Homo sapiens: one gene and its partner. The protein of the gene in region 1 interacts with the protein of each later gene in a pairwise test. Each region holds a gene or a part of one and is shown on either strand. Other genes may lie near its edges.

What was found. The genes of interacting proteins can lie anywhere in the genome.
Region 2: the proteins of C8orf44-SGK3 (region 1) and ITCH interact in binary tests that used the Homo sapiens proteins (3 or more experiments, as listed by UniProt).

What each region holds. Positions count from the first base shown.
Region 1 is NC_000008.11:66,837,716-66,843,403, reverse strand, and holds part of C8orf44-SGK3 (serine/threonine-protein kinase Sgk3), read right to left. Parts: intron 3,402-5,688; coding exon 3,289-3,401; intron 3,194-3,288; coding exon 3,157-3,193; intron 2,381-3,156; coding exon 2,294-2,380; intron 1-2,293. Other genes in the region: serine/threonine-protein kinase Sgk3, read right to left, coding at 2,294-2,380, 3,157-3,193, 3,289-3,401.
Region 2 is NC_000020.11:34,509,273-34,512,382, reverse strand, and holds the end of ITCH (E3 ubiquitin-protein ligase Itchy homolog), read right to left. Parts: 3' UTR 610-3,110; downstream 1-609. UniProt on the Homo sapiens protein: Acts as an Acts as an E3 ubiquitin-protein ligase which accepts ubiquitin from an E2 ubiquitin-conjugating enzyme in the form of a thioester and then directly transfers the ubiquitin to targeted substrates.

The DNA of each region.
Region 1 (5,688 bases):
CAAAATTTATAAATAATTGAGAAATTTAACAAATTTTAGTTGTTGCTATCATACTGAAACCAAATTATCTAGATTTCCAGTGGGTTGGATATTCTCATTCTACACCAGTGGTTCTTAGCTAATGTCAACTAGAACACTTCACAATACATGTATTCTGCATTTCTCCTTGGAAACTGTGATACAGTTAAAATAAATAAGAGTATCGCGAAGGTAGAATCTATAATTCCCAATAGGTGATGTAGGTATTTGTGGGGAAAGTCTTTCAAAGATTATTTTAGAAGTTCATTTGGTCATTATTCATGTTTTCCCCTTAAATAATTTTTTTGTTTTTTTGAGACAGGATCTTTCTCTGTCGCCCAAGCTGGAATGCAGTGGCACAATCACAGCTCACTGCAGCCTTGACTTCCTGGGCTCAGGTGATACTCCCACCTCAGCCTCCTGAGGAGCTGGGACTAGAGGCATGCGCCACCACACCTGGATAGTTTTTCGTATTTTTCATAGAGACGGGGGTTTAGCCATGTTGCCCAGGCTGGTCTGGAACTTCTGGGCTCAAGCAATCTGCCCACTTTGGTCTCCCAAAGTGCTGGGATTACTGGCATGAGCCACGGCACCCGGCAAGAATACTTAATGTAGCAATTATAATCCTTTTTTTTCTTTTCAGTAAAAAAGAAAGAATTGCATTCTCATCTGAGAATTATAACAGCAATTCTCTAACATATTATTTAGAAAACTTGTATAAGTTGTAGATGTCTATTTACATTTTAATTTGTAGGAAATTTAGACTGATCACAACTTAACACATCTAAGACAGTGAACTTGAATTTTACATTCCAAAATATATTACCTCTTCCCATATGAAATACATGTAAGAAAATAATTTCCTCTTAAGCTTTTTTATGTGATCTAAAGAAATGGCAAAATATTGGGAGGCTGAGGCGGGTGGATCACAAGGTCAGGAGATCGAGACCATCCTGGCTAACACGGTGAAACCCCGTCTCTACCAAAAATACAAAAAATTAGCCAGGCGTGGTGGCGGGCGCCTGTAGTCCCAGCTACTCGGGGGGCTGAGGCAGGAGAATGGCGTGAACCTGGGAGGCGGAGCTTGCAGTGAGCTGAGATTGCGCCACTGCACTCCAGCCTGGATGACAAAGCGAGACTCCATCTCAAAAAAAAAAAAAAAGGAAAAGAAAAAGAAAAGAAATGGCAAAATATTTTAACTATGAAATTAATATACAATAACAAAGAATGTTTCTTCATCCAGAAACCAAAACACAATGGTTATAAATATATACAAGCACTAGGGTTAGACAGAAAAAAGAAGGAAAAACCCATTTCAAGGTAAATATTTATTACTTAGAGATACTTTTAGTTAAGTTTCTGAACTCAGTTAGAAGCCATTCTCTCACACGTTTTCAACATTGTATTTGCAAGTACTCCACGATAAAGATGAAATATTATGTGGTACCTAAAATCATTATAAATACCTTGGAATTTGGACAGTTCAAAATAAACTAAACTTGTTTATGTGTGTGAAGTATGAATAATAAAGCTTTTACATGATTTGTAAGGATCATTACTATTGTCACAAATAGATACTTTTTTTGCTAGCTAACATGATTAGAAAATGGGATGTTCTGATAAATAAATTCTGATTTGTGATTTGTTTTTCCATATCCACTGCTTTATTTTCTTCTAGTAAGTAAACACTTAATTTTGTTACAAAATATTTCAAGCATATAAAAAACAAGAGAAACCAATAAACTGCAACTGAGATATAGTCAAGTGTTAATATTTTGCCATATTTGCTTTAGCTCATTTTTTAAAAGAAAAACAGCTTTATTAAAATAGTCACATATCACACAATTCACCCATTTAAAGTGTGTGATTCAATGTTGTTAACATAGTCACAGAAAGAACACTTTCATCACTGATTTGTGATTTTTAAAGGATTAGAAATATAATTTTCTACAATATTTACCTTAGAAGAAAACAAAAACAAAAAAAGAAATATAATTAAATGCATAAAGAAGCCTAAGGTAAACTTCTAACACTAAAAACAAATAAACATAATTTATATTTGTTGGATTATTCAAAAGGGTCTTGCAGTATCTAACAATCACAGTTAAAAATACCCAACTATCAAGGCATGATTATCAGGTATTTCCAGCTGGCTGGAAGCTGAAATGACAGTTTTTATTCTACTTTTCTTATTTTAAATTTATATATGCAATCTGTAATTCATATTTGCATTTTATACATGATTATATAAATGACAATGAGATATATTTCTTACCTCTGGTGTCCCACAAAATGTGGTAGTGGTGTCAGAAATAGCAATTCCTTCTTTACAAAGCCCAAAATCTGTTAAGACAACATGTCCCTGACAAATACAGGGGCAGTAAGATAAAACAATGCATAAATATGAATTGACAATTTTTCAGTTAATTTTTTTTTTTTTTTTTGAAACAGAGTCTTACTCTGTTGCCCAGGCTGGAGTGCAGTGGTGTGATCTCGGCTCACTGCAACCTCTGCCTCCTGGGTTCAAGCGATTCTCATGCTTCAGTCTCCTGAGTAGCTGGGACCACAGGCGCGTGCCACCTGGCTAATTTTTGCATTTTTAGTAGAGATGGTGTTTCGCCATGTTGCCCAGGCGTGCCACCTCAAGTGATCCACCCATCTTGGCCTCCCAAAGTGCTGGGACTACAGGCGTGAGCCACCACACCCGGCCAATAAATTAACAATTTTCAAACTCCTTTTATTTTGACATAATTATAGATCCATATGAAATTGCAAAATAGTATACAGAGGAAATTGTCATTGGTACAATACTATTAACCAGACTGTCAACCTTGTTCAGTTTTCACTTTTTACATGCATGCTTTGTGTGTGTGTGTAGCTCTACGCAATACAGATGTATAGATTTGTGTAACCACCACCAAAGGAACTTCCCTAATGCTACCCCTTTATCTTTGCACTCTCTATCCCCTTGGACCCTGTCAACCACTAATCTGTTCTCCATCCCTACCGTTTTGTCATTTTGAGAATGTTATATAAATAAAATAACGCAGTACAGAATCTCTGAGACTTTTTTTGCACTAAGCATAAAAGCAACAACAAAAATTGAGAACTAGTAGATTTTTAAAAGAGAATACTTACTACTGAATCCAAAAGAATATTTTCTGGTTTCAAGTCTCTATCAAATTAAAAGGAAAGAAACGCAAAACTGAATACAAACCGAAATAAAATATTGTTATATACAATTTTTACAAGTATATTTTAAAATTGTACCTGTATACTATTTTGATGGAATGTAAGTAACCCAATGCACTAGCAATTTCAGCAGCGTAAAACCTAGCTCTGTGCTCAGGAAAGGACCGTTCTCTTTGTAAGTGGAAAAAAAGCTGTCAAATTGGTTGTGGGGGTGGGGGGAGAGAGAATGTTAGGATCATTCACACATAGCATTAAACAAATATATTCGGTAAATACAAAGGTAGGAATTGTTCTTTGTTACTTTGAATGTGAGCTAAAAATGTTAACAAGGCACAGAAATGTGACTCCCCTTCATCCATGTCCCCACCTAACAATCATTCTCTCTCTTCAACCACGTGTCTTTGTTTACCCTTGCTAATGTCACTCATCTCCCATTTACTACTTAATGCAAAAATGTCCTCACCCTTCCAGGCAACTGTTCTGGAAAAGATTATCGATGAAGATCAACGATCTTGATACTGCCATGTAATTATCTTACAGGGCCTTTCTGGACTATGTTTTCCATTTGAAAAAAACAAACACTATTCAGAGATTAAAAACTAGAGCCCAGCAGAACAAATATAACCCATATGAAAATATATATATATATATATATATATATATATATATATATATATATATATATATATATATATCTCCATACATATAATTTACTTGAGCCAAATACTGTTTTTCAAAAAATCTGAATTAGTTGATAACATTAAAAACTGGGAATTTGGGGGTAAAAATTCATGGTTTTAGTTTTTTTTTTTAAAAAGATAAGCTCTGGACCATTAGGCCTACACTTCACAGCAGCAGCAACCGGCTGCAGCTAAACAGCAGTTGGACTTTCTAGTTCATTTCTTATACTTCCTAATTTTTAATTTATTTCTTATAACCTGGCCTTTAACTAAGGTTACTGCCTGGGGGAAGTTTCCACTGGGTCCCTTGGCTTCTAAGACAAAAATCTCTCCTTGAGTCTTGGTGAATTCCATCTCTGCTCCTTTCTGGCCTCGGAAAATGCAGGGATGACAGGGTTTCTGCCCTTGGTCCACGTGTTATTTTTTCTCCAAATACCCTTCCCAGGTAACTTTATCCATTCTGTTGGTTTTAACCACCACCTCAATGTTGATATCTCCTATGTGGACATTAGCCAACAATTTTGACTCAGGAAATCGGAAGCTGAGGCTCAGAGAGGCTTGCTCATCTGCCAAGTGTCATAAAACTTATTTGTTTTTATTCTACTTTGCTCTAAAAAAGATATGAAGTAGTATACAAAGCTAAGTATTCGTATGTCAAAGTTAAAATTTTTAAGTATGAACACTGGGGGAAAATAAGAGTAATAATGTATGGAAACCACACTCCTATCCTTTCTCCTCATCTTTAACCCTTGTCTACCTATTACCCACTCAACTTCTCCTCCACCCACCCTGGCATTCTATTGTATTTTATTCTCCTTTTTTCATTATCTTGCATCTTTCAGATGACAAGCCTTCCTCTTCCATTCTTTGCCAGTGAGCAGTCACTGTACAAAAAGGTCTCAGAAGCAAAGCCCTAAAAGAGCACGAAGAAACCACACATAAAGCAGGGAGCTCGCAGTGGTATCTCACCTGCACTTAGATGCTTCACATGAACATTTCAAAGACACAAGGTGGCACTTAAGAATGGGCTCTGCAGTCGAGATATCTAGGTTAAATGCAGGGTCTGACACTTACTAGAACACCGTAACATTGAGACAGTTATTTAACCTCTCCGAACCTCAATTTTCTTATTTATAAATAAGAAAATTTCAGCCAGGTGCGGTCGCTCACGCCTTTAATTCCAGCACTTTGGGAGGCTGAGGCGGGTGGATCATGAGGTCAGGAGTTTGAGACCACCCTGGCCAACATGGCGAAACCCCGTCTCTACTAAAAATACAAAAATTAGCTGGGCGTCATGGCACGTGCCTGTAATCCCAGCTACTCGGGAGGTTGAGGCAGGAGAATCGCTTGAACCAGGGAGTTGGAGGTTGCAGTGAGCTGAGATCGCACCACTGCACTCCAGCCTGGTGACAGAGAGAGACTCCGTCTCAATAAATAAATAAGAAAGAAAATTTCATGGCATTTAATATAAATGCCATGGCAAATTAAATGGGCATAATAGTGTTTTCTGAAAGAGTTGTGATTTACTGACATAATGCATGTAAAATAATTGCAAAGTGCCAAGCCTCAATAAATTCTCTTTATCTGTCAGCACTTGGGCACACACAAAATTAAACGACAACCTTCAAGGTGAAAACAATGTGGGGTCACCTGCATCAATGAATCAGGATGCCTGAGAGATGGATAATCTTGCCTCTACACTGAAGAGTCTTAAGGGAATTTTTTTTTTTGACACAGGGTCTTGTTCTGTCACCCAGGCTGGAGTACAGTTGTGTGATCATGGCTCATTGCAGCCGCA
Region 2 (3,110 bases), on another chromosome or scaffold:
GTTGGTGGTTCTCTACTCAGCACTCATGCCTGTGGTCCCGGTCTTTTAGTTGTCTCAGAAAAGCAATTCATATGGAGGCCTTTATGTTGGTTGATGGCCCCTGCAGATATCTTCATCTTCAACATGGGCACCAAATCCAGTCTCATCTGCAACAGCTCTTTCTAGTTTTTTTCTACCCGTACCGTGGCAGGCCAGATCTCAATAACGCAGGCCTCCATAACAACTGTTTCAGCACTGAGTGGTTAAGTTAAATATTAAAAGCTGAAAGAGTGAGGGCCCTTATGCAAAGGCTAGAATGTAACAAAAGGCCACCAAGGGTTTTGCCCAGGCCTTTTCTGGGCCTTGAAGCATGACAAGATAACAAAGGAACCCATTTAGGATTAAACAAGTTTTATTGGGGGTCTGAAGGAACTTATTGAGGGGGTCTGAAGGCCTCCACAAACAAGTTTACTGGGGGTCTGAAGGAAGTCCCCAAACCTCCATGATTTAGCAGGAAACAAGATAAGGGTAATCACCCCAGCACCTGGACCCATTTAGATTAAGTAAATTTACTGAGGCTCCAGAGGAAGGTCTTCAGGGCTCAGATCTTATTTATAGATTTAAAAAAGTGAATCACTTATGTCTTTAGATGAATGTACACTCACATGTAGACATATAGCTTATAATGTAAATAAGCTCTGGAAAACTTTGTAGTTTTGAGTTGGTCTTGGGATCATTTCCAGGCTTTCTCCCCATACCTGGTTACAGAAATAAACTCCCTCCTTTCTCAGTTCATCTGCACCTCATTATTGGGCTGCGAGAATAAGCAGTCCAACCCTTGATTTGGTCTGGGAACAATACCACAATCCAGATGGGCTGTAACTTGCCACTTAAAAAAGCAGAGAGGCAGAAATCTATGTGACCTGGTCACATATAAGTCTCAGAAGGTGGGGCCGGGGAGAGAGGAAAGAGACCCCTCCTTACCCAAGACTGATAGAAAAGCATGCAAATGAAGGACCAAAAAAGTTTAATTATAAACAGTCTTACATCTTGTAGGAAAACGCAAGTGAGGCAACCACTGAAGGAACTTTATAAAAGCATTTGACTCCCTGTAATATTTGTAGCATTACCTGAGTATTAAAAGTAACAGATCAAGAAAACAAAGGTACTCTTAATACAGTAATATACAATCCAGTGCTGCCAATTCCATTTTTAGTTAATGAAAGCAAATTATACAAACAAAGTAAATAACTAAAAGAAAAACAAAAAAAGGAGGGGGGCTGGAGATACCAACAATACTAAATAGAAGTCGTTAACTCTAAAGGAGTTTAGAAAGGTAAGTTACATCCACAACAGGAAAGGATATAAAAATAGAGGAAAAATTTAATTCCGTGAGTCAACCCCGGTAACATTTCGGATTATTAACCAGATAAGTAAAAAGTGGTAGAGTGGGCTTGACTGAAATAGTTCATTTAGGATGAGAACTTTGTGTATAGTTGAGTCAAGTTTCACTAAAATTTCTGATCATTGGTATGTCAATCTCTTGATGAAAAATCAGTACCTGAATATGTCTTTTTGTTTTTTTAAGAGACAGGGTCTTGCTATGTTGCCCAGGCAGGATTTGAACTCCTGGGATCCTCCCACCTCAGCCTCCCGAGTACAATACCTGAATTTTAAATAGAGTTATTGTAAGTCTTATGAAATGAGATTTTGCTGCACTCTGACATAAGATAATAAAAGACAGAGCAGGAATTCATTATTATGAGCTGCTTGATCAGTTTTAAACCACTCCATTTGATGAAACAAGTGAGGTCCTTCCCTCCTGACCAGGCTGTGGAATGCTGTCTTCCCCAACCCCCACCCCCTGCAAAAGAGCAGAACAATAAGGCAATTGCTCATTTTACTTTGTTTTTATTTCAATGTAACATGCAGTAAAAAAAAAAAAAAAAAAAAAAAAAAATTAACAGGATTTATTAGCATTTACAATGCTTACAAAGAAAAAGACTTCTAAAAGCAAGTTAGTTCAGATTTAAGAAAAAGCTCTAAGTAAATACTTACAATAAATCTATTTCCATATGTTCAGTTTGGACCAAAATTTAAGATAGCATTTGGTAGATATTTATGTCTGCGGTCTATTTGCAGTATTTTTATATAACCTCTGATTCTTGGGATATCCAGCCCCCATTTTCCTAACACAGCAGGGAAGACATATACATGTGGCCACTTAAATTAAAGGAAAAAATGGAGTAGGGAGATCCCAGGCTGCAAAAATATATACAAGCATTTACCTTTTCCAGAACTAAACACTTCTTCCATAAAAATATTAAATAGCCAAGCCCTATAGAACTAGGGCCAGGGCTACTTCAAATATAACTATTCTGTATTTTAAAAATATAGGGCAGAAAGCCTTTTGGGTGATATTTATATATTTTCACACAATATTTCTAGGTCCCTAAATGAATCATGAAGCATTATATAGAACCAAAAAAATGTATTTTCTTACATTATCTCTTAATTTAATTTCATAAATCTCTAGTAAATATTGTAGGTAACTACATTTCAGTATGAGAATTCACCTCAACAGGAAGTCTTTATAGAGGGCTTAATCTTCATTAGCCATATATTACCAAGTTCAGACTTATATAATGAACGGGTAGTTGGCAGACATTCGCTCTGTAAGACAAAGCAATAGCGTTTTTTCTCCCTACCAACAAAAAGGCAGAGTCCCTACTTTTAACAACCAGGGCTTTTAGAAACCACACAGTATTTCCTGGGGTACATGAAATAAAAAAACCATAGGGCTGGGGAGAGCCTAGCCTCCCCATTTACACTGAGCTGCTTGATGAGGCAACCCTTTCACTCATGTAAGTCTCTGCTTTATGATGGCAGTATCTTACAGTAGACAAGTTTAAAAAAATGTTTTTATTGTTGTTCCAGGATGTAAAAGGAAGAACATTAGGGACAAAAAATTGTTTTTCTTTTTTCCATATGGAACAGGGTTCTGCTGCTTATTCTTGGCTTAATATTACTTGTTCATGCTATGCCTCTGAAATGTGGCAAAAGTCCCTGATACATGAGCTATGAGGCTGTCCTCAGGGTTCAGCTATGATAGAGACTCAGCTGGCTTAGGC